2 linked regions of the Homo sapiens genome follow. The protein of the gene in region 1 interacts with the protein of each later gene in a pairwise test. Each region holds a gene or a part of one and is shown on either strand. Other genes may lie near its edges. The genes, in order: TEX19 and ZNF490.

Region 1 (10,752 bases):
ACGTGAGCCACCGTGCGGGGCTGTTTAATGTCTTTTTATGGAGATGCATTTTGTAGGGTGATGAGAGATGAGAGCAGAAAACAAAATCAAGCACCAGGGCCCCAGGTATGCGTCTTCCACATTTGGTTTATTTGATGAAGGAGTTCATGGCTAACAGGGCCCTATAGCCCAAGTGTGACCCAGATCTTTAGAACTGCGGGCCCTCCCTCAACTCCATCTCACCCAGTAGCATGAACCCTAAATCTACTATGGAGGCCTTAGGGAGAGAGGGTGTAGGAGGGTGGCTGCACTCTCATACCTTCCTACATCTGCTGGAGCCCAGGGCCCCCATCACAGGCAGCACCTGCTCCTGTAGGCTACAGACAGGGTCACGCAGGCGCCTGGAAACCGCTGCCAACTGCCAGGATTGGGTCTGCACCTGCCCCGGCCTCCCTGGCCCTGGGTGATGGGGGGAAGCCAAGAGGGGAGAGTCCCAGGGAACGTGACCCCCAAGTGTGTGGCTGCCCCGCCCCTCGCGGGTGTTCAAAGGCCAGGAGCCCTGGGATATTGGGAGGATGTTTCAGTATCCCCAAACCTGAAGGCACCCAGACTTCCAGAAAAGGCTGGCAATGGAGAGACAGGCAGCTTCTTTCTAAGCTGCATCATACCAGGAGGTCGCCAGGGGCACAGAGCTGCCCAGGGGCAGTGTTTCCACAGGTTTGGGCTATGGAAATGGGGACTTCTGGCCATCCTTCCTCTCTGGCCTTCTTCCAGCATCTCCCTCCAGGAGACACCAGTCCCCTTTCCCCATGGGACCACTCAGAGTCATGTCCAAGACCTTCCCCAATGGTGGTCTTTGCTGACATCTTAGGGCAGCCCCCACCCTTGCCACTGTGGATGAAGAAATCTCCTGGGGTGGTGGGGGCTCTGCTTCCTGGGGTCTCACGTGGCCGCCTCCACCCCCTCACTTGGTCCCCAGCTGCCTGGAAACCCACCCTAGATGGACTCAAGTTATCTGCAGATGTGTTTGACAGAACAGCAAGGATGTACCTGCAGTTTTGAAGACCCTGGGCTGGGCGGGATCACCACCTCTGCCTTTTTAGGGAAGGGACCCACAATTCCCAGCACTCATTTGCTCTTTTGCTGCTCAGGGACTGTCACTGCACAGGCCCTGGGGCCTATGGAGGAGTCACAGACTCTGGACTCAGGATGGGGCCCCAGGCCCCAACCAGGCTCTGGCCCAGCCCAGGGAAGATAATAATGCCCACCTTATGGAAATCCCACCCCAGGAGGGTTCAGGACAGACCCCAGGAGTGTTCAGGACAGAGCCCAGGAGTGTTCAGGACAGAGCCCAGGAGGGTTCAGGACAGACCCCAGGAGGGTTCAGGACAGACCCCAGAAGGGTTCAGGACAGAGCCCAGGAGGGTTCAGGACAGACCCCAGGAGGGTTCAGGACAGAGCTGGCCACAGCCGGGTACAGCGCCCAGGCCCTCTCTCCTTCCTTCCTCTCCTGCAACCATTCTTCCTACTTGAGAGTAAGATACAGAGACCTTGCTTTTTGCACTCTCTGGAGAATGTGTGACTGGTGATGTTCTTTCCTCTTATTTGCTTGCCTGTTTTCTAAATGTTTGATAATGAATTTGTTTACTTTGAAATAAGCAAACAATACCAAAAGTTATTTTTAAAAGGACAGCCTCTAAGTCCATGATTACAATTTGGATGATGAGCCAGTGTGGTCGAGGGTGTTCTGATCCTCACACAGCACTGGTGACAGACCTGACCAGGGCACGTGGAGGTGCTTCCACATGGCAGTGGCTTCTTGGTCCTTCAGAAGGATGGAGGCCACCAATGGGCCACGGAGCTGAGTAGGTGGACAAAGCAAATGAGCAGGAAGGGTGGGCTGGGAGTGAGGGGAGGGTGACTGTGGTCCCCTGGATAGTCTGTTGTAAAGAAGCCACCTCGGCTGGGCACGGTGGCTCATGCCTGTCATCCCAGCACTTTGGGAGGCCAAGGCGGGTGGATCACGAGGTCAAGAGATTGAGACCATCCTGGCCAACATGGTGAAACCCCATCTCTACTAAAAATACAAAAATCAGCTGGGCATGGTGACAGGCACCTGTAATCTCAGCTACTTGGGAGACTGAGGCAGGAGAATCACTTGAACCCGGGAGGTGGAGGTTGGCGTGAGCTGAGATCGCGCCATTGCACTCCAGCCTGGGCAACAAAAGTGAAAGTCCATCTCAAAAACAAACAAAAGAAACAGGCAGCTTCTCAGAACACATCTGTCCTCCATGTCCACGGGCGCATCCCACCCCTGGCCACCACCGTGTGGCTTTTCTCCGTGGAAGCAGAGGCCATGCATCACTCCCACAGGCAGCCTCTCTCTGACGAGCCTCAGTAGTAAATTCATGCAAGAAACAAAGAAAACTGCTCCTGTCCTTCTTCAGTGCTGTGCGGAGGAGCGAGAGGGAAAAGCCAACCATAACGCCATTGCATGTGCTGCTGAAATGCTTTGTGCAAACGTTGAGACTGGAGGTGAGGGCGGAACTTTGTAATATAAGAGCAGTAAGATAAATGTTGATTTTAAAATCCAAGTACTTGGACTTTGCTAGAATATTCCATAATCTTTTCCTGGTCTTGATTATTAAACAGTTTTCAAGAAAGTTCTATTTGGTGAGTCACCTGATGATCTAAACACACTTTTCTTTCTTGTTTGATTCCAGCTGGGTCACCTGCCAACAGAACCAAGCCCACTTGGGTTTTGGAGGCTTTGGGGGCTGGCTGGTTTCCCTGGGCATGATTGGTGACCTCAGGTCAGATTCCTGGACTTGCTGGGGATCCTGTGCCCAGGAAGGCACCAGCCCAGGAGGCTCTGAGCCTCAGCCAGGGATGCAGCAGGTTGGTAGCACCTTGGCAGCCATCCCGAGGACACAGGTAAGAAGCCAACAGAGAAGCAAGAATGTGTCTTATTAAAGCTGCTCCACTCCACAAGCATCTCTGGAATGTTCTCTGGGCCCCGGATCTGCGCGAGGCATTCTGGGTGAGACAGAGACGAAGCCGCTTGAGCTCGGAAGCCGGTGCTCAAAGAGCGTGACGTGGCCTCACCCCATTCCTCTGCAGGGCTCAGCTGGCACCTGCACCCCCGAGGTAGCTGGGGGCCCCTGAGCTTGGCCAGGCCCATCTGGCAGCCTTGTCCCTGCTTGTCCACCCCCTCTGGGTTGCGTTCAGCTTCCTGAGCTCCCCCTCTTCACCCGTTCCTAACACAAGAGCTTGTGCACCCCAGGATGGTGGGGATGGGGTTCTGGCTCGTGGGCAATCTGGGTGTCAGGCTTACGGCCCCAGTGGCTCCGGGTCATGGCCTTGGCCCCACAATGGCTGTGCTGCCCCATCAGTGGTCTCTGCAGCTGGGGAAATGCCTGGTCCTTCTGGAGATACAGGAGTGTTGGATTCCCCGATTATGGCCACGTCCTGTTCCTCTGGTACCATCCACCCACCAAGTCTTGCCACGGTTTCCCTCTGGGCCTCAAATCCAGCTGTCCATCCCAACATCTGTCTCAAGTGGCCTCTCCTGTACCCAGCTGCCCAGGAAGCGATCCAAAGGCTCCGTCCCAGGCTGCTGAGGTGACTGAGGACCTTGAGAGGGTCCTACACTCTCAGACCAGGGTGAGGCCGAGGCCCGAGAGGCAAGTCCCTGCCCAGGCCCTGGCTGGCCAGGACGCGCTGGCCACAGCTTCCCAGAGTGGACGCTGCCCTGCACCCGCCAACACTTCCCCGTCAGCTTCCCGGTCCCACACCGCTCCTGCTGGCAACGAGGTCGCAGCATATTAAATTCTCGACGCAACTACTGTGTGAAAAAGCCATGCAAACCAGCGAGGAGCCTGCTTACCACAGGGGCCCTCAGAGGGCTCTGCTGCTCCTCGGTCAAAACCTCCTTTAGGCAGTGACTCTGGCAGCTGCCGGCTGGGCTGTGTCCTGAGAACTGAGGCTGGGAGGGGCCAGGTGGGAGGGACCTCATCCTCCAGGCGCCCACTGGCCCAGCCCTGAGTGTTCACGACAGGTGCAGGGCTCCCTCCCCGGCCCCCTTCTGGCCAGGGCAGCCACAGCTCAGCCCCGAGGCCTTGAGTGGCCTTTTCAGAGAAAACCAGGACCTGGGGGCTCCTCCCGGGAGCCTCTGACCCCCAGACCCATAAACAGGCTTCTCTGTGGGGTCCCTCAACCACTACTTTCCTCTCACCTGAGGGGACCAGCCAGACAGCTCAGGCACCCGAGTCTTTAGGGAATGAGCTCACTGCCCTCTCCACCCACAGCAGGACACCTGGCAGCCAAAGCCCCACACCTGCCCCTATCCCAGGACTGGGACGAGGAAGCCCCAGGGTGAGGGGTGGCCCTGATCTGAGCCCTAACCTGGTGGGGGTGGCAGGCAGCCCCAGGTGTGTGGATGACCTGAGCCAGGCACAGACAGCTGCCAGGTGGGGAGGAGCAGAGGTCATGGGGATGTAGGGAAAGGGTTTGGGGGTTCCTCCCACAGGGCCACTGTGTGAGACAATTTGTCACTTTCTTACAAAACTAAACACACTCTGACCACAGCATCCAGCAATCTCACTCCTTAGAGTTTACCAAAATGAGTTGAGAACTTATGTCTACAGACACCTGCACATGAATATTTGTAGTAGCTTTATTCATAATTGCCCAAACCTGGGAGCAACCAAGATGTCTTTCCATAGGTGAATGGATAAATAAACCATGGTACATCCAGACAATGGAATACCATTCAGTGTTAAAAAATAAGTGAGCTGGCCATGCAAGGTGGCTCACGTCTGTAATCCCAGCACTGTGGGAGGCAGAGGCAGGCGGATCACTTGAGCCCAAGTGTTTGATACCAGTGTGGGCAACATGGTGAGGCCCTGTCTCACAAAAAATACAAAACTTATCGGGGTGTGCACCAGCACCTGTAGTCCCAGCTATTTGGGAGGCTGAGGTGAGAAAATCACAGGAGCCCAGGAGGTTGAGGCTGTAGTAGCTGTGATTTCACCAGTGCATTCCAGCCTGGGTGACAGAGCAAGACTCTGTCTCAAAAAAAAAAAAAAAAAAAAAAAGAAGTGAACTATCAAACCACAAAAGACATGGAAGAACCAAAGTGCGTATTACTAAAAAAGAAGTTGAAAAGGCTACATAATGTATGAGTCCAGCTCTGTGACATTTTGGAAAAGGCAAAATTAAGGAGACAGTCAAAAGATTCCTGGTTGCCAGGGGCTGGGAGAGGGAGTGATGAAAATGCAGAACACAGATGAATCGGGGCGGAGAAACCCGTCTGTACAATATTAGAGTGGTGGGTCTGCATGATTATACATGTGTCCAAACCTGCAGAATGCACAGCACCGGAGGAAAGCATAATGGAAACTGCAGAGGGCGATGATGATAATAACAACGTGTAACAAATGGCTGGGACGGGAGGACTGGGGAAGGCTGTGCACCTGCAGGAGCAGGGGAGCGGTGGGAGAGCTCCATGCTTTTGGCTCAATTTTGCTATGAACCTAAAACTGCTGTAAAAAATAGAGTCTACTGAAAAAACAAGTGTTAATTTATAAGCGTCTTGTTTAAAGAGCGAAGAGATGAACCACAAAGGGGAAAATGTGTTTAAACAATAACTAATTGACAATTGGCTGGTTCTTAAAATTCAGAGAACTTTAAGACAGAGACAGCAAAGCAGGGATCACGTTTTACAAACGCGGCAGGACCAGGACGTCGTGCCCACGACGGGCCAGCAACCACAGGCTGGATGCTCACCCTGTGCCAGCCTGCAGACGGAGAGCACCCACCCCAATCTCCAGCCCCCAGAGGAGCTGCCTCTCCAGGGCCTTCCTGCAGGTGCCCAGGGGCTGCACATGGCCCTCCTTGGAGGGAGCTGGTGACTCAGCACTTTCATTTCCTGGAAACTGAGGCTCATGGGAGATATGCAGATGAGCCCAGAGCACCATGGGAAATGGCCCTTTATATACCCAAATGGGCTCTGCCTCCTCCTTTCCCTGGGTGCCCACATGAACAGAGACACCAGGATGGTGAGATCTCCCGAGGAGGGGTCTCTGAGGAGGGGTCTCGGAGACACGGCCTGGTGCTGGGTGAGGGGTTGGGAGGCTGAAGCGGGGCCAGGATTCCTCAGGTTCCCTCAGTTTCCCTCAAATTTCCCTCAGTTTCCCTCAGGTTCCCTAAGGTTCTCCAAGTTCCCTCAAATTTCCCTCAGTTTCCCTCAGGTTCCCTCAGTTTCCCTCAAGTTTCCCTCAGTTTCCCTCAGGTTCCCTCAGTTTCCCTCAGGTTCCCTCAGTTTCCCTCAAGTTTCCCTCAGTTTCCCTCAGGTTCCCTCAGTTTCCCTCAAGTTTCCCTCAGGTTCCCCCAGTTTCCCTCAAGTTTCCCTCAGCTTCCCTCAGGTTCCCCCAGTTTCCCTCAGGTTCCCTCAGTTTCCCTCAAGTTTCCCTCAGTTTCCCCCAGTTTCCCTCAAATTTCCCTCAGTTTCCCTCAGGTTCCCTCAGTTTCCCCCAGCTTCCCTCAGGTTCCCTCAGTTTCCCTCAAGTTCCCCTCAGTTTCCCCCAGTTTCCCTCAGGTTCCCCCAGTTTCCCTCAAGTTCCCCTCAGGTTCCCCCAGTTTCCCTCAAGTTTCCCTCGGGTTCCCCCAGTTTCCCTCAGGTTCCCCCAGTTTCCCTCAGTTTCCCTCAAGTTTCCCTCAGGTTCCCCCAGTTTCCCTCAGGTTCCCTCAGTTTCCCTCAAGTTTCCCTCAGGTTCCCCCAGTTTCCCTCAGGTTCCCTCAGGTTCCCCCAGTTTCCCCCAGGTTCCCCCAGTTTCCCCCAGTTTCCCTCAAGTTTCCCTCAGGTTCCCCCAGTTTCCCTCAGGTTCCCTCAGTTTCCCTCAAGTTTCCCTCAGGTTCCCCCAGTTTCCCTCAGGTTCCCTCAGTTTCCCTCAGGTTCCCCCAGTTTCCCCCAGGTTCCCCCAGTTTCCCCCAGTTTCCCTCAAGTTTCCCTCAGGTTCCCCCAGTTTCCCTCAGGTTCCCTCAGGTTCCCCCAGTTTCCCCCAGTTTCCCTCAGGTTCCCCCAGTTTCCCTCAGGTTCCCTCAGTTTCCCTCAGGTTCCCCCAGTTTCCCTCAGTTTCCCCCAGTTTCCCTCAAGTTTCCCTCAGGTTCCCCCAGTTTCCCTCAGGTTCCCTCAGTTTCCCTCAGGTTCCCCCAGTTTCCCTCAGGTTCCCTCAAGTTTCCCTCAGGTTCCCCCAGTTTCCCTCAGGTTCCCTCAGGTTCCCTCAGTTTCCCTCAGGTTCCCCCAGTTTCCCTCAGTTTCCCCCAGTTTCCCTCAAGTTTCCCTCAGGTTCCCCCAGTTTCCCTCAGGTTCCCCCAGTTTCCCTCAGGTTCCCTCAGTTTCCCTCAGGTTCCCCCAGTTTCCCTCAGGTTCCCTCGGGTTCCCTCAAGTTTCCCTCAGGTTCCCCCAGTTTCCCTCAGGTTCCCTCAGTTTCCCTCAAGTTTCCCTCAGGTTCCCCCAGTTTCCCTCAGGTTCCCCCAGTTTCCCTCAAGTTTCCCTCAGGTTCCCCCAGTTTCCCTCAGGTTCCCCCAGTTTCCCTCAGGTTCCCTCAGTTTCCCCCAGTTTCCCTCAGGTTCCCCCAGTTTCCCTCAGGTTCCCTCAGTTTCCCCCAGTTTCCCTCAAGTTTCCCTCAGGTTCCCCCAGTTTCCCTCAGGTTCCCTCAGTTTCCCTCAGGTTCCCCCAGTTTCCCTCAGGTTCCCTCAGTTTTCCCCAGTTTCCCTCAGGTTCCCTCAGTTTCCCTCAGGTTCCCTCAGTTTCCCCCAGTTTCCCTCAGGTTCCCCCAGTTTCCCTCAGTTTCCCTCAGGTTTCCTCAAGTTGCCTCAGTTTCCTTCAGGTTCCCTCAATTTCCATCAGGTCCCCTCAGGCTCTGCCAGTTTCCCTCAGGTTCCCCCAGTTTCCCTCAGGTTCCCTCAGTTTCCCCCAGTTTCCCTCAGGTTCCCCCAGTTTCCCCCAGTTTCCCTCAAGTTTCCCTCAGGTTCCCCCAGTTTCCCTCAGTTTCCCCCAGTTTCCCTCAGGTTCCCCCAGTTTCCCTCAGTTTCCCTTAGGTTTCCTCAAGTTGCCTCAGTTTCCTTCAGGTTCCCTCAATTTCCATCAGGTCCCCTCAGGCTCTGCCAGTTTCCCTCAGGTTCCCCCAGTTTCCCTCAGGTTCCCTCAGTTTCCCCCAGTTTCCCTCAGGTTCCCTCAGTTTCCCCCAGTTTCTCTCAGGTTCCCCCAGTTTCCCTCAGTTTCCCCCAGTTTCCCTCAGGTTCCCCCAGTTTCCCTCAGGTTCCCTCAGGTTCCCCCAGTTTCCTTCAGGTTCCCTCAATTTCCATCAGGTCCCCTCAGGCTCTGCCAGTTTCCCTCATGTTCCCCCAGGTTCTGTCAGGTGAAGCTGATGGGCTGTTGGGGTCCCTGAGGTGTAGGGGGTGGCTGATGAGCCCGGGGAGGTCGGATGGAGGAACTGAAGGCCTCCCAGCCCCGGTGCTGTTCAAACTGAGCAGGGTCCCCACTAAAGGGCCAGTCTGAACCCCAACATCCCTGCCCCTGCTGGTCCCCACAGTTTGCCCCCACCCTGCCTGCTGGGGGTGCCTAACCTCCCTTCCTTTGCCTTTCCAGCTCTCCTGAGACCACAGCAACTGCAGAAGCTGAAGACATTTCCAGAAGTTCAAGCTTCCACCCTCTGCAGGTCCCCACTGAGCTGGGACCCAGGTCATCCACCCCACCCCAAATCCCTGGATAGGAAACCCCTTTCTCCTCCTGCTCCTTGTCCCCTTCATCCCTGCCGCCCAGCATCCTACTGGCCTCAGCACCTGTGGCCAGACCGTCCAAGATCCTCTGAAGGCCCAGCTCTTGCTGTCCACCCCGGCAGTAGGCAGGCAGCCTGGCCATGTGCCCTCCGGTCAGCATGCGGTATGAGGAAGAGGGCATGTCCTACCTCTACGCCTCCTGGATGTATCAGCTTCAACATGGAGATCAGCTAAGCATTTGCTTCACCTGCTTCAAGGCTGCCTTTCTAGACTTTAAAGACTTGCTGGAGTCAGAGGACTGGGAAGAAGACAACTGGGACCCTGAGCTGATGGAGCACACTGAGGCAGAGTCAGAGCAGGAGGGGTCCTCAGGGATGGAGCTGAGCTGGGGGCAGAGCCCAGGACAGCCTGTGCAGGGGGGCTCTGAGGCATGGGGGCCAGGGACCCTGGCAGCAGCCCCAGAAGGGTTGGAAGATGCAGGTCTGGACCCCCACTTTGTCCCCACTGAACTATGGCCTCAGGAGGCTGTGCCCCTGGGCCTGGGCCTTGAGGATGCTGACTGGACCCAGGGTCTTCCCTGGAGATTTGAGGAGCTTCTTACCTGCTCACACTGGCCAAGCTTCTTTCCTTCATAGCAGGGGTTTCTCAAAGTGGACCTGCCCCCAGGGGAGCCCGTGGTGTTGAAGCTGGGCATTACCTGGGCAGTGGACCCTGCCGAGGCTGAGGCCTAGTTACTGGCCCTGCAGCTTGTCTCCATGGTGGGCTGCTATGATACCATCTACCTACAGAAGATGACCCCAGACAGGGCCCTGAGGACCCCAGGGCAGCACTGGAAATTGCTGCTGGAGCCTGGTGAAGTGTGGGTGGTGAGACTCCAAGATGCACCCCAAGAGCAGGACCTGCACTGGTGGATGCTGAGCATTCTAGAAACATCGTTAACAGGACACAGGGCAGAGCTGGTCCCTGCAGCCTCAGCCCTGCAGAAGAGGATTCACCATAGTCTCTTATTCACCCTGGACCAACAGGGAGAGCAAGAAGGGAGACTCAGCCTGTAAGCCACAGTCCTCCAGCCAAGAACAGGATCTCAGCACCCCTGAGACACAGAGCAGGGGTCCTGAGGAAAGCCTGGCTGTTGCAGGAGCCTCGGCCATGGGGGAGCTGCCCTGTTTCCAGCCTCAGTCCAGGGCCCCAGAACTGAGAGACTAAGGCTCATGTAGCTGCCATTGTCCTGGGCACACCAGGACATCAGAGACTGGGAAGGGCCAGCAATTGCTGTTCCACAACAGCCAGGGGAGCAGTTGGCAAAGGAAACATGGGGAGCAACTTTAGGGGCTGGGAGATAGGGCCTGTTGTGGCCTCAGAGGGAAGCATTACAAATATTCATAACCTGGAAACAAGTTCTTACCAGTTGATTGTCACATAGTTCTGGATGTGTTGGCCTGAATGGCTGTTGTGCTGCTTGTGACATGGGGGGCAGGGCACAGAACTTGTGCCTATTTCACCTTGGCCATGGGGAGGGACATTGCTTGTAAAACACATGCTCTGCAGAACACACCAGAATCTGTGGTGACCTGGATGTGTTCTCGACTTTGCCAGGACAATCTCAGGGGTGCCACAAGACCCTGTCAGCAGCACTAGGATCTCTGGTCTACAGTGGAGGGAGAGCTGGTTTTAAATGTTGGCCGTTGATGCAATTTAACCATTTAATTCCTGTTGCTCTATATGTTGTTTTTAATTTTAAAAAGTCATAAAAGCTTTCAAACAAGCTCCTGTGTAAGTCATTCCTCAGCAAGTTTTGTTGATTGGCCTTATCCTTGTCCTCTCAGTATCTGGGCTAAGCCACTTTGCTGGCTTGAAATCCCACCAAATGGTGGGAACAGAGGATAGAAGGGAAGAGGAGCACGGGAGAGATGAGGGTTCTGGTCGGTTTCCAGGCTCATCATGGGAGTTTGTTTCACATTATTTATAAAGAAATACAGGGCCAGGCAC
Region 2 (10,468 bases), on another chromosome or scaffold:
TAAATAAATAAAGATAAAAAATTAGCTGGGCATGGTGGCATAGTCCCAGGTCCTCGGGAGGCTGAGACGGGAGGATGGCTTCAACCTGAGGCTGCGGTGACCTGTGATGGTGCCACTGCACTCTAGCCTGGGCAACAGAGCGAGACCCTGTCTCAAAAAAACACAAAAACCACAAATTTGGAGTCATGTTTACTTGTTTGCATAGTTTGGACAAAACGATCACTGCAGTTCTGACCTTCAAGGTAAACATGCAAGAGACGGATAAGGCACGGGTTAGTGTCGGGGGTACCTAATTTTGTCATTGCTATCAGTTCCCTGATCTAAGTGACTCTGTAATCCCAACACTTTGGGATGCTGAAGTGGGAGGAATTTCATGGGGAATGACTACAGCCTTCATGCATGTGGATACATAATCTGAGCCTGAATATGTCATCTTCACATAAAACCACGATTTGGTTATTGACTGTTCTGTGAATCCTGGGTTCCTTGGCTCATGGGAGCTTCAATGTGGCTTTTCTGGCCAGGAACTTGCCTGACATTTTCAATAAGCCAATCCTTAAGTTCAGCATGCTGGTATTTTTCAGTGTCTGGGTCACCGTCCTTCCTGTCTACCAAAACCCGAAATGGGGAAGCTATCAATCCTGGCCTCCACTGATTTGCTGCTGCTTCTCTGTCTGCAGATGCTATGCTGTTCTTGTTTGTTCCTTTTTTTTTTTTTTGAGACAGGGATCTTGCTGTGTTGCCCAGGCTGGTCTCAAGCTCCTGGCTTCAAGCAATTCTCCTGCCTCAACCTCCCAAAGTGCAGGGATTACAGGTGTGAGTCACTATGCCTGGCCTGAGTTTTCAGTTTTTGACAGTGCTCAGTATATGTGGTGGCACACATTTGGACTTTAATACTGAGAAGTTCCATTATTATTACTGTTATTATATTGTATTACTATTACTATTATGTTCTGTCACCCAGGCTGGAGTGCAGTGGCAAGATCACAGCTCACTGTAGACTCAACTTCACAGGCTCCCTAGTAGCTGGGACTAGTAGCTGGAACTAGGACTAGGTGTGCGCCACCACGCTTGGCTAATTTTAAAAAAATTCTTTTTTTAGCCAGGTGTGGTTGTGCACATCTGTAATCCCAGCTATTTGGGAGGCTGAGGCAGGAGAATTGCTTGAACCCAGAAGGTGGAGGTTGCAGTGAGCCGAGATCATGCCACTGCACTCTAGCCTGGGTGACAGAGTGAGACTCCACCTCAAAAAAAAAAAAAAATTTAAATTTTTTAAATTTTAGAGACAGGGTCCTGCTATGTTGCCCAGGCTGATCTTGAACTCCTGGACTCAAGTGATCCTCCCACATCAGCCTCCCAGTGTTGGGATGGTAGGCGTGAGCTACCACACCTGGCCAATTTCATTATTACTTATGAGCCATATGAGTTTAGACAAGACTTTGTGCTCTCCATACTTAACTTTTTTCATTTGCAAGATGGGAGGTATGATTGGGTGGGGCTAATCAAATGAAATACTAATGATTATGAAATCACATTAGTCACCACAGTGATGTGCAAACATAAATTATTGAAATATTGAATAAAAATGGGATTTTATTTGTTCTTTAGTAAAACACAAAGCTGTTCATTTTTTTTCTTTCCTAACATGTGCTGGAAATCTACCATATGGAAATGATACTTGTGAATGGTCATGGACTTTTAGGCCTTTGCTGATCATTAAAATAAAAATCTTCCAGTGATTCCTTTTATAAAAGGACATCAAAGCCTGGGCAACAGAGTGAAATCCTGTCTCTATAAAAATAAAAAAAATTGGCCAGGTGCAGTGGCTCACACCTGTAATCCTAGCACTTTGGGAGGCTGAGGTGGGTAAATCACTTGAGGTCAGGAGTTCAAGACCAGCCTGGCCAACATGGCGAAACCGCATCTCTACTAAAATACAAAAAATTAGCGGGGCATGGTGGTGCACACCTGTAGTCCCAGCTACTCAGCAGGCTGAGGCAGAAGAATTGCTTGAACTCAGGAGGCAGAGGTTGCAGTGAGCTGAGATCATGCCACTGCACTCTAGCCTGGGCAACAGATAGAGACCCTGTCTCAAAAAAAAAAAAAAAAAAAGAATTACCCAGGGTGGTGGCATGTGCCTGTAGTCCCATAGCAGAGATCCCTTGAGTCCAAGAGTTGGAGGCTACAATGACCTATGATTGTGCCACTGCACTCCAGCTTGGGCAATAGAGTGAGTCTCTGTCTCTAAAATGAAAAAAAAAAAAAATCCTATTTTAGGCCAGGCGCGGTGGCTCATGCCTGTAATCCCTGCACTTTGGGAGGCCGAGGTGGGTGGATCACCTGAGGTCGGGAGTTTGAGACCAGCCTGACCAACATGGAGAAACCCTGTTTCTACTAAAAATACAAAATTAGCGGGACGTGGTGGCACATGCCTGTAATCCCAGCTACTTGGGAGGCTGAGGCAGGATAATTGCTTGAACCCGGGAGGTGGAGGTTGCGGTGAGCCAAGATCATTGCACGCCAGCCTGGGCAACAAGAGCAAAACTCTGTCTCAAAAAAAAAAATTAAATTAAAAAAAAATCCTATTCGAGGGTCTCAAATACACTTTTCTTAAAGGGATAGGAAAACCATTAACAAAATATTTAACAGAATACTTCACTTCTGGTCCACCAATAACCACTTCTCAAGCAGACACCAGCTGGGTGTGCTATATAATTCAATTTAATTGTGACAGTATCTACCTGGAGACGGAGTCCAATACCAAAAGCTAACGGCTCACAAGAATGCCCCTCACTGCAAATGTCAGTTGTAAGTCCCAGGATGTGACCTATGCTTCTGACCAACAAGCTGTAAATCAGGGTTTTCATGACCCACTCTTTGGGTTTGATTAATTTGCTGTAGCAGCCTACAGAACTCACAGAAACACTTTACTTACATTCACCCATTTATTACAAAGTGTTTTTTTTTTTTTTAATAGAGCAGGGTTTCACTCTGTCTCCCAGGCTGGAGTGCAGTGGCAGGATCATAGCTCATTGCAGCCTTCAACTCTTGGGATCAAGCGATCCTCCCTCATCAGCCCCGCAAGTAGCTAGGAATATAGGCATGTGCCACCACACTCAACTAATTATTTATTTTTTGTAAAGTTAGGGTCTCGCTCTGTTGTCCAGGCTAGTCTCAACCTCCAGGTCTCAAGAGATCCTCCCACCTCGCTCCTCTCAAAGCACTGAGATTATAGGAGTGAGTCACTGTGCCTAGTCTTACAAAGGATATTTTATTATTTATTTATTTGTTTACTCTTTATTTTGAGACAGGGTCTCACTCTGTTGCCAGGCTGGAGTGTAGCAGCACGATCTTGGCTCACTGCAACCTCCATCTCCAGGGTTCAAATGATTCTCGTGTTTCAGCCTCCCGAGTAGCTGGAATGACAGGCATCCTCCACCACGCCCAGCTATTTTTGTATTTTTAGTAGAGAAGGGGTTTCACCATGTTGGCCAGGCTGGTCTCGAACTCCTGACCTCAAGTGATCCATCTGCCTTGGCCTCCCAAAGTGCTGGCATTACAGGTGTGAACCACTGCACCCAGCCTACAAAGGATATTTTATTTTATTTATTATTATTATTATTTTTTTTTTGAGACGGAGTTTTGCTCTTGTCGCCCAGGCTGGAGTGCAATGGCGCGATCTCAGCTCACTGCAACCTCTGCCTCCCAGGTTCAAGCAATTCTCCTGCCTCAGCTTCCCAAGTAGCTGGGATTACAGGCGCCCACCACCACGCCTGGCTAATTTTTTTTTTTTTGAGATAGAGTCTCACTCTTTTGCCCAGGCTGGAGTGCAGTGGCACAATCTTGGCTCACTGCAGCCTCTGCCTACCAGGGTCAAGTGATTCTCCTACCTCAGTCTCTCAAGTAGCTGGATTACAGGCCCATGCCACCATGCCCAGCTAATTTTTTTTCTGTGTGTCTATGTTTTTAGTAGAGGCAGGGTTTCACCATGCTGGCCAGGCTGGTCTCGAACTCCTGACCTCATGATCCGCCCACCTTGTCCTCCCAAAGTGCTGGGATTATAGGTGTGAGCCACTGCACCTGGCCTAATTTTTGTATTTTAAGTAGAGATGGGGTTTCATCATGTTGGTCAAGCTGGTCTTGAACTCCTGACCTCAAGTGATCCACCTGCCTCAGCCTCCCAAAGTGCTGGGATTACAGGCGTGAGCCACCACACCTGGCCCTACAAAGGATATTTTAAATGATACGAATGAACAGCCAGATGAAGAGATACCTCCAGGCATATGGTTATGTTCTTATTTACCAACCAGAAGGCTCTCTGAGCCGTGTTTTTGGGTTTTTATGGTGGCTTTATTATGGTGACATGATTAATCACATCATTCACTATGGGTGATCAACTCAACCTTCAGTTTTCTCTTCCCTCCCTGGAGGTGGGGACAGAGCTGAAAGTTTCAAAGCTCCAGTCACATGGTTGGTTCCCTGGCAACTAGCCTCACATCCTGTGGTTTGTAGGAGCTTTCCAAAAATCACCCCATTAACATAAACTTAGCTGTGGTGGAAAGGGGATGGTTATGAATAACTAAAGACATTTCTTCCACCTGTCACTCTGGAACTCTTCTAGAGCTATTTTAAGAACTGAATACAAAAGGCCATTTTTTTTTTTTTTTGAGATAGGGTCTCCTTCACTCTGTCACCCAGTGACAGTGGCACAATCTTGGCTCAATGCAGCCTCCACCCCCGGGTTCAAGCAATGATCCCACCACAGCCTCCTGAGTAGCTGGGACTACAGGTGCACGCCACCACATCTGGCTATTTTTTTCTATTTTTAGTAGAGATGGGTTTTCGCCATGTTGCCCAGACTGGTCTCAAACACCTGAGCTCAAGCATCCACCTACCTTGGCCTCCCAAAGTACTGGGATTACAGATGTGAGCCCCAGCGCCCAGCCTTTTTTTTGTTGTTTGTTTTTTGAGACAGAGTCTTACTCTGTCACCTAGGCTGGAGTGCAGTGGTGTCATCACAGCTCACTGCAGCCTTGACTTCCCTGAGCTCAGGTGACCCTCCCACCTCAACCTCTCAAGTAGCTGAGACTATAGGCACACACCCCTATGCCTGGCCAATTTTTGTATTTTTTGTAGAGATAGGATCTCACTGTGTTGCCCAGGCTGGTCTTGAACTCCTGGGCTCAAGCATCCTGCCTGCCTCAGCCTCCCAACATGGTGGGATTACAGGCAGCCCAAATATTTTAACAAAAGATACTCCAATTGCTCTAGTCGCTTAGGAAATTACAAGGTTTTTAGCAACTGTGAGCCAGGAACCCTGGACAAAACCCAAATTATATATTTCACAATATCACAACTTTCTTTTCCACCAAACTGGGGGGTGGTACTCAAAATGATACCCTCTCTCTGCAGTTTGATTCAATTATAACTTGGATATTCTCTAAGAATCCATAGTTCTTGTCTGTGTGTCAACTGGGAAATCACTGTGGATTTGAATAAGTACTCTGCACATAAGAAAAACCCATGATGGGGCCAGGTGTGGTGGCTCACACCTGTAATCCCAGCACTCTGGGAGGCTGAGGCAGGTGGATTGCATGAGCCCAGGAGTTTGAGACCAGCCTGGCCAACATGGCGAAACCTTGTTTCTACTAAAAATACAAAAAACTAGCCCGGCGTGGTGGTGCGCACCTGTAGGCCCAGCTTCTCGGGAGGCTGAGGTGAGAGAATCATCTGAGCCTGGGAGGTCAAGGCTGCAGTAAGCCGAGATCACACCACTGTACTCTAGCCTGCATAACCATAGTGAAACCTTGTCTCGACAAAAAAAAAAAAAAAGAAATATACATGATGGGCTGCACTGTGTAGATGACCATTACCCTCTAGGAAGACCTCAGTGGTTTTCTTTTTTTGAGACAGAGTCTTGCTCTATTGCCCAGGTTGGAGTCCAGTGGCATCATCTCGGCTCGCTGCAACCTTTGTCTCCTGGGTTTAAGTGATTCTCCTGCCTCAGCTTCCTACATAGTTGGGACTACAGGTGCCTGCCACCATGCCCAACTAATTATTTTTATTTTTTTGGTAGAGATGGGGTTTCACCCTGTTGGCCAGGCTGGTCTCAAGTTCCTGACCTCAGGTAATCCTCCTGCCTCGGCCTCCCGCAGTGCTGGGATTACAGGCGGGAGCTACCGCGCCAGCCAAAGGTTTTCTGATATACAATTTAATTTATGTCACCCAGTCTCCAGTAGCAGCAAAATTTTCATATCAAATACATGAGGCAATTCAGACATAGAGATCAATGGCATGAAATTGAAATTCCAGAAATAGGCCCATATATGTGTGTGTGTGTGTGTGTGTGTGTGTGTGTGTGTGTGTGTGTGTGTGTATATAGTGAACTGAGTTTCAAAAACGGTGCCAGGAATCGGGAAATAATATTATTTTCTTTTTTTACTTTTTTCTTTTTTTTTTGTTGAGTCAGAGTCTTGCTCTCTCGCCCAGGCTGGAGTGCAGTGGTGCGATCTCGGCTCACTGCAAGCTCCGCCTCCCGGGTTCACGCCATTCTCCTGCCTCAGCCTCCTGAGTAGCTGGGACTACAGGAGCCTGCCACCAAGCCCGGCTAATTTTTTTTGTATTTTTAGTAGAGACAGGGTTTCACCATGTTAGCCAGGATGGTCTCGATCTCCTGACCTCGTGATCCGCCCGCCTTGGCCTCCCAAAGTGCTGGGATTACAGGCCTATGCCACCGCACCTGGCCTAGAATATTATTTTCATAAATTGGTGTTGTGACAGTTGGATAGACATACAAAAAATAATAAAATTGGGCCGAGCACAGTGGCATGATCATCTGAGTCCTGGAGTTCAAGACCAGCCTGGGCAATATAGTGCAACCTCATATCTTATAAAAAAAAATTAGCCAGGTTTGTGGCATACACCTGTAGTCCCAGCTGCTTGATGGCTGAGGGAGGAGGATTGCTGGAGCCTGGGAGTTTTGGCTGCAGTGAGCTATGATTGTACCACTCTAGTCTAGCCTGGGTGACAGAGTGAGACCCCAATTCTTTGTTTTTGTTTTTTTTTTTTCAGACGGAGTCTTGCTCTGTCACCCAGGCTAGAGTGCAATGGCGCAATATCGGCTCATTGCAACCTTCGCCTCCCGGGTTCACACCATTCTCCTGCCTCAGCCTCCCGAGTAGCTGGGACTACAGGTGCCCGCCACCACGCCTGGCTAATTTTTTGTATTTTTAGTAGAGACGGAGTTTCACCGTGTTAGCCAGGATGGTCTCGATCTCCTGACCTCGTGATCTACCCGCCTTGGCCTCCGAAAGTGCTGGGATTACAGGCGTAAGCCAACGCACCTGGCCTTTTTTTTTTCTTTTTTTTTTGAGACAGGGTCTTACCCTGTCTCCCTGACTGGAAAGCTGTGAGCCTCAGCTCACTGCAGTCTCTGCCTTCCAGGCTCAAAGGATCCTCCCACCTCAGCCTCCCAAGTAGCTGGGGCTACAGGCGTGCACCACCACACCTGGCTAATTTTTGTATTTTTTGGAGAGACAGGTTGTGTCATGTTGGCCAGGCTGGTCTGGAACTCCTGGGCTTAAGTGATCCACCCACCTTGGCTTCCCAAAGTGCTAGGACAAGAGTCCTGAACATTTTTTCTCTATTCTGATGTCACAATCTCCAAAGTTATCTAAAACTTGCATTCAAGAGCACCTGTTAGAGCTTTATAGCTGATTATAAAACCACCTTCTAAAGAGGACCAAGACAAGACAACAATTATTTATGGATGACAAAGTTTTAGGGTAGCCATAGCTAAAGACACAATTGACAAGGAAATCTGTTACTCTGTGGCACACAATAATTTAACATAATAATTATAATTATTACTGATAACATACACTGATATATCAGAATTACAAGAGTTTTCCATCATTTTGGAACACATACCAATAACATATATATACAGATATAGTCCAAAGAAAGCCATACTCCATTTTATATTTGACTTTGCTTCCTCTATGATTTTTGTACCAAATAAGCCAAATTTCACATTTACATTAGTATACTATTACTGTTAAACCCAATTCTTTTCTTTTCTTTTTTTTTTTGAGACAGAGTCTCGCTCTTTCGCTCAGGCTGGAGTGCAGTGGCACATCTCGGCTCACTGCAACTTCCACCTCCTGGGTTCACACCATTCTCCTGCCTCAGCCTCCCGAGTAGCTGGGACTACAGGTGCCCGCCACCATGCCTGGCTAATTTTTTGTGTTTTTTTTTTAGTAGAGACGGGGTTTCACCATGTTAGCCAGGATGGTCTCGATCTCCTAACCTCGTGATCTGCCCGCCTCGGCCTCCCAAAGTGCTGGGATTACAGGCGTGAGCCACGGCGCCTGGCCTAAACCCAATTCTTAATAAAACCTTATAGACATATTTACCCAATTTTATAGACATATTTACGCCAATGTTTGGCAATTTTTATAGATTTTTTATTACCCTTTACAATTTTTGTTAAAGAGCAGGTTAGTGTTCTAAAAGAAAGCCGTTGTGCTTTTATTTTAATATTCAATTTACAGAAAAACTGGATAATACCCCCTTTAACTTTAGCCAATATGTTTACACACAGAATTTCTTTTACAATCAACCTTCCACAACTTGCTTAAACTTTCAGCTTTATTTTATCTAATTTAATCCATTAACCTTTTATTTAGGCAAAAAAAATCCACATTCCCATGCCTTCTTATAATCTTTTTACCAAAAGTATACTCTACTTTCCTTACACACCTTGCATGTAAAACTGTTTTTTCCAGTAGTCTCAATTACATGTTACAATATTGATTCTTAGCAACTTTTACTTTTGGTGAAAAACCTGGTAAGTGATTTTAATTATGGACCAGGTGGGGAGCCTAGGACCTAGACAGAAGTGCAGATAAGGTCTGACTCATTCTAGCATCTAACTTCTTGTGTCCCAGGCCTTCCCTAGCTGTAAAGCAGGCAGTTGTACAGTTAAGAGTCATAATGGCATTTTATGAAGCATTCAGGAGGCCTAAACACCTTTAAATTCTACAACATTTCTTCCATAAGTTCCCTTTCATAAATTCTTTCATGACTTACACTCTATGATATGCCTTGACTTTCTGACTTGTCCTAAACATCCCTCTTTTTAAACAACCAGTCATTTTTCTTTAGGACAAGAATCTATCATACAAGATCCTTTTTTATATAAAATATCTTTTCTTTATGCTTTTTTTAACCAAAAATACTTATTTATTTTTATAACTTTCTTTATGTCTCTTTTTTTTTCTTTTCTTTCTTTCTTTTTTTTTTTTTTTTTTTTTTTGAGACAGAGTCTTGCTCTGTTGCCCAGGCTGGAGTGCAGTGGCGTGATCTTGGGTCACTGCCCAGGTTCAAGCGATTCTCCTGCCTCAGCCTCCAGAATAGCTGGGATCACAGGCACCCCGCCACCACACCCAGCTAATTTTTTTTTTTTTTTGAGATGGAGTCTCGCTCTGTTGCCCAGGCTGGAGTGCAGTGATGCAGTCTCGGCTCACCGCAACCTCTGCCTCCCAGGTTCAAGCTATTTTCCTGCCTCAGCCTCCCTAGTAGCTGGGACTACAGGTGCGCGCCACCATGCCTAGCTAATTTTTGTATTTTTAGTAGAGATGGGGTTTCACTGTGTTGGCCAGGCTGGTCTCGAACTCCTGACCTCATGATCCGCCTGCCTCAGCCTCCCAAAGTGCTGGGATTACAGGCATGAGCCACCGCGCCCGGCAGAATCCTGGGTTTTAAAAAGGGAGAATTATTGACGGGCATGGTGGTTCAGGCCTGTAATCCCAGCACTTTGGGAGGCCGAGGCGGGCAGATCCCAACCTAAGGTTGGGAGTTCGAGACCAGCCTGACCAACATGGAGAAACCCCGTGTCTACTAAAAATACAAAATTAGCCGGGCGTGGTGGCTCATGCCTGTAATTCCAGCTACTCGGGAGGCTGAGGCGGGAGAATCGCTTGAACCCGGGAGGCGGAGGTTGCGGTGAGCGGAGATCACGCCACTGCACTCCAGCCTGGGCAACAAGAGAGAAACTCTGCCTCCAAAAAAAAAGGGGAGAATTATTATGAGGCTAGATCATGTGATGCTTTTACAGTGCACTTAACAATTTTTTTTCCCAAAGACATTTCTAAGTGTCTAAACCACACTTTTTCTTAAAATCCTGAGTAGCTTCTGTTGCAATAGCTATTTTTTTTAATTGTTGTTTTTTTTGAGACAGAGTCTCGCTCTGCCACCAGGCTGGAGTGCAGTGGCGCGATCTTGGCTCACTGCAACCTCCGCCTCCCAGGTTCAAGTGATTCTCCTGCCTCAGCCTCCTGAGTAGCTGGGATTACAGGCGCGTGCCACCACGCCCAGCTAATTTTTGTATTTTTAGTAGAGACAGGGTTTGACCATGTTGGCCAGGATGGTCTCGATCACTTGACCTCGTGATCCGCCCGCCTCGGCC

What was found.
Region 2: the proteins of TEX19 (region 1) and ZNF490 interact in binary tests that used the Homo sapiens proteins (3 or more experiments, as listed by UniProt).

Annotation. Positions count from the first base shown.
Region 1 is NC_000017.11:82,353,248-82,363,999, forward strand, and holds TEX19 (testis-expressed protein 19), read left to right. Parts: upstream 1-5,999; 5' UTR 6,000-6,038; intron 6,039-8,632; 5' UTR 8,633-8,903; coding exon 8,904-9,398; 3' UTR 9,399-10,528; downstream 10,529-10,752.
Region 2 is NC_000019.10:12,597,988-12,608,455, reverse strand, and holds part of ZNF490 (zinc finger protein 490), read left to right. Parts: intron 1-10,468. UniProt on the Homo sapiens protein: May be involved in transcriptional regulation.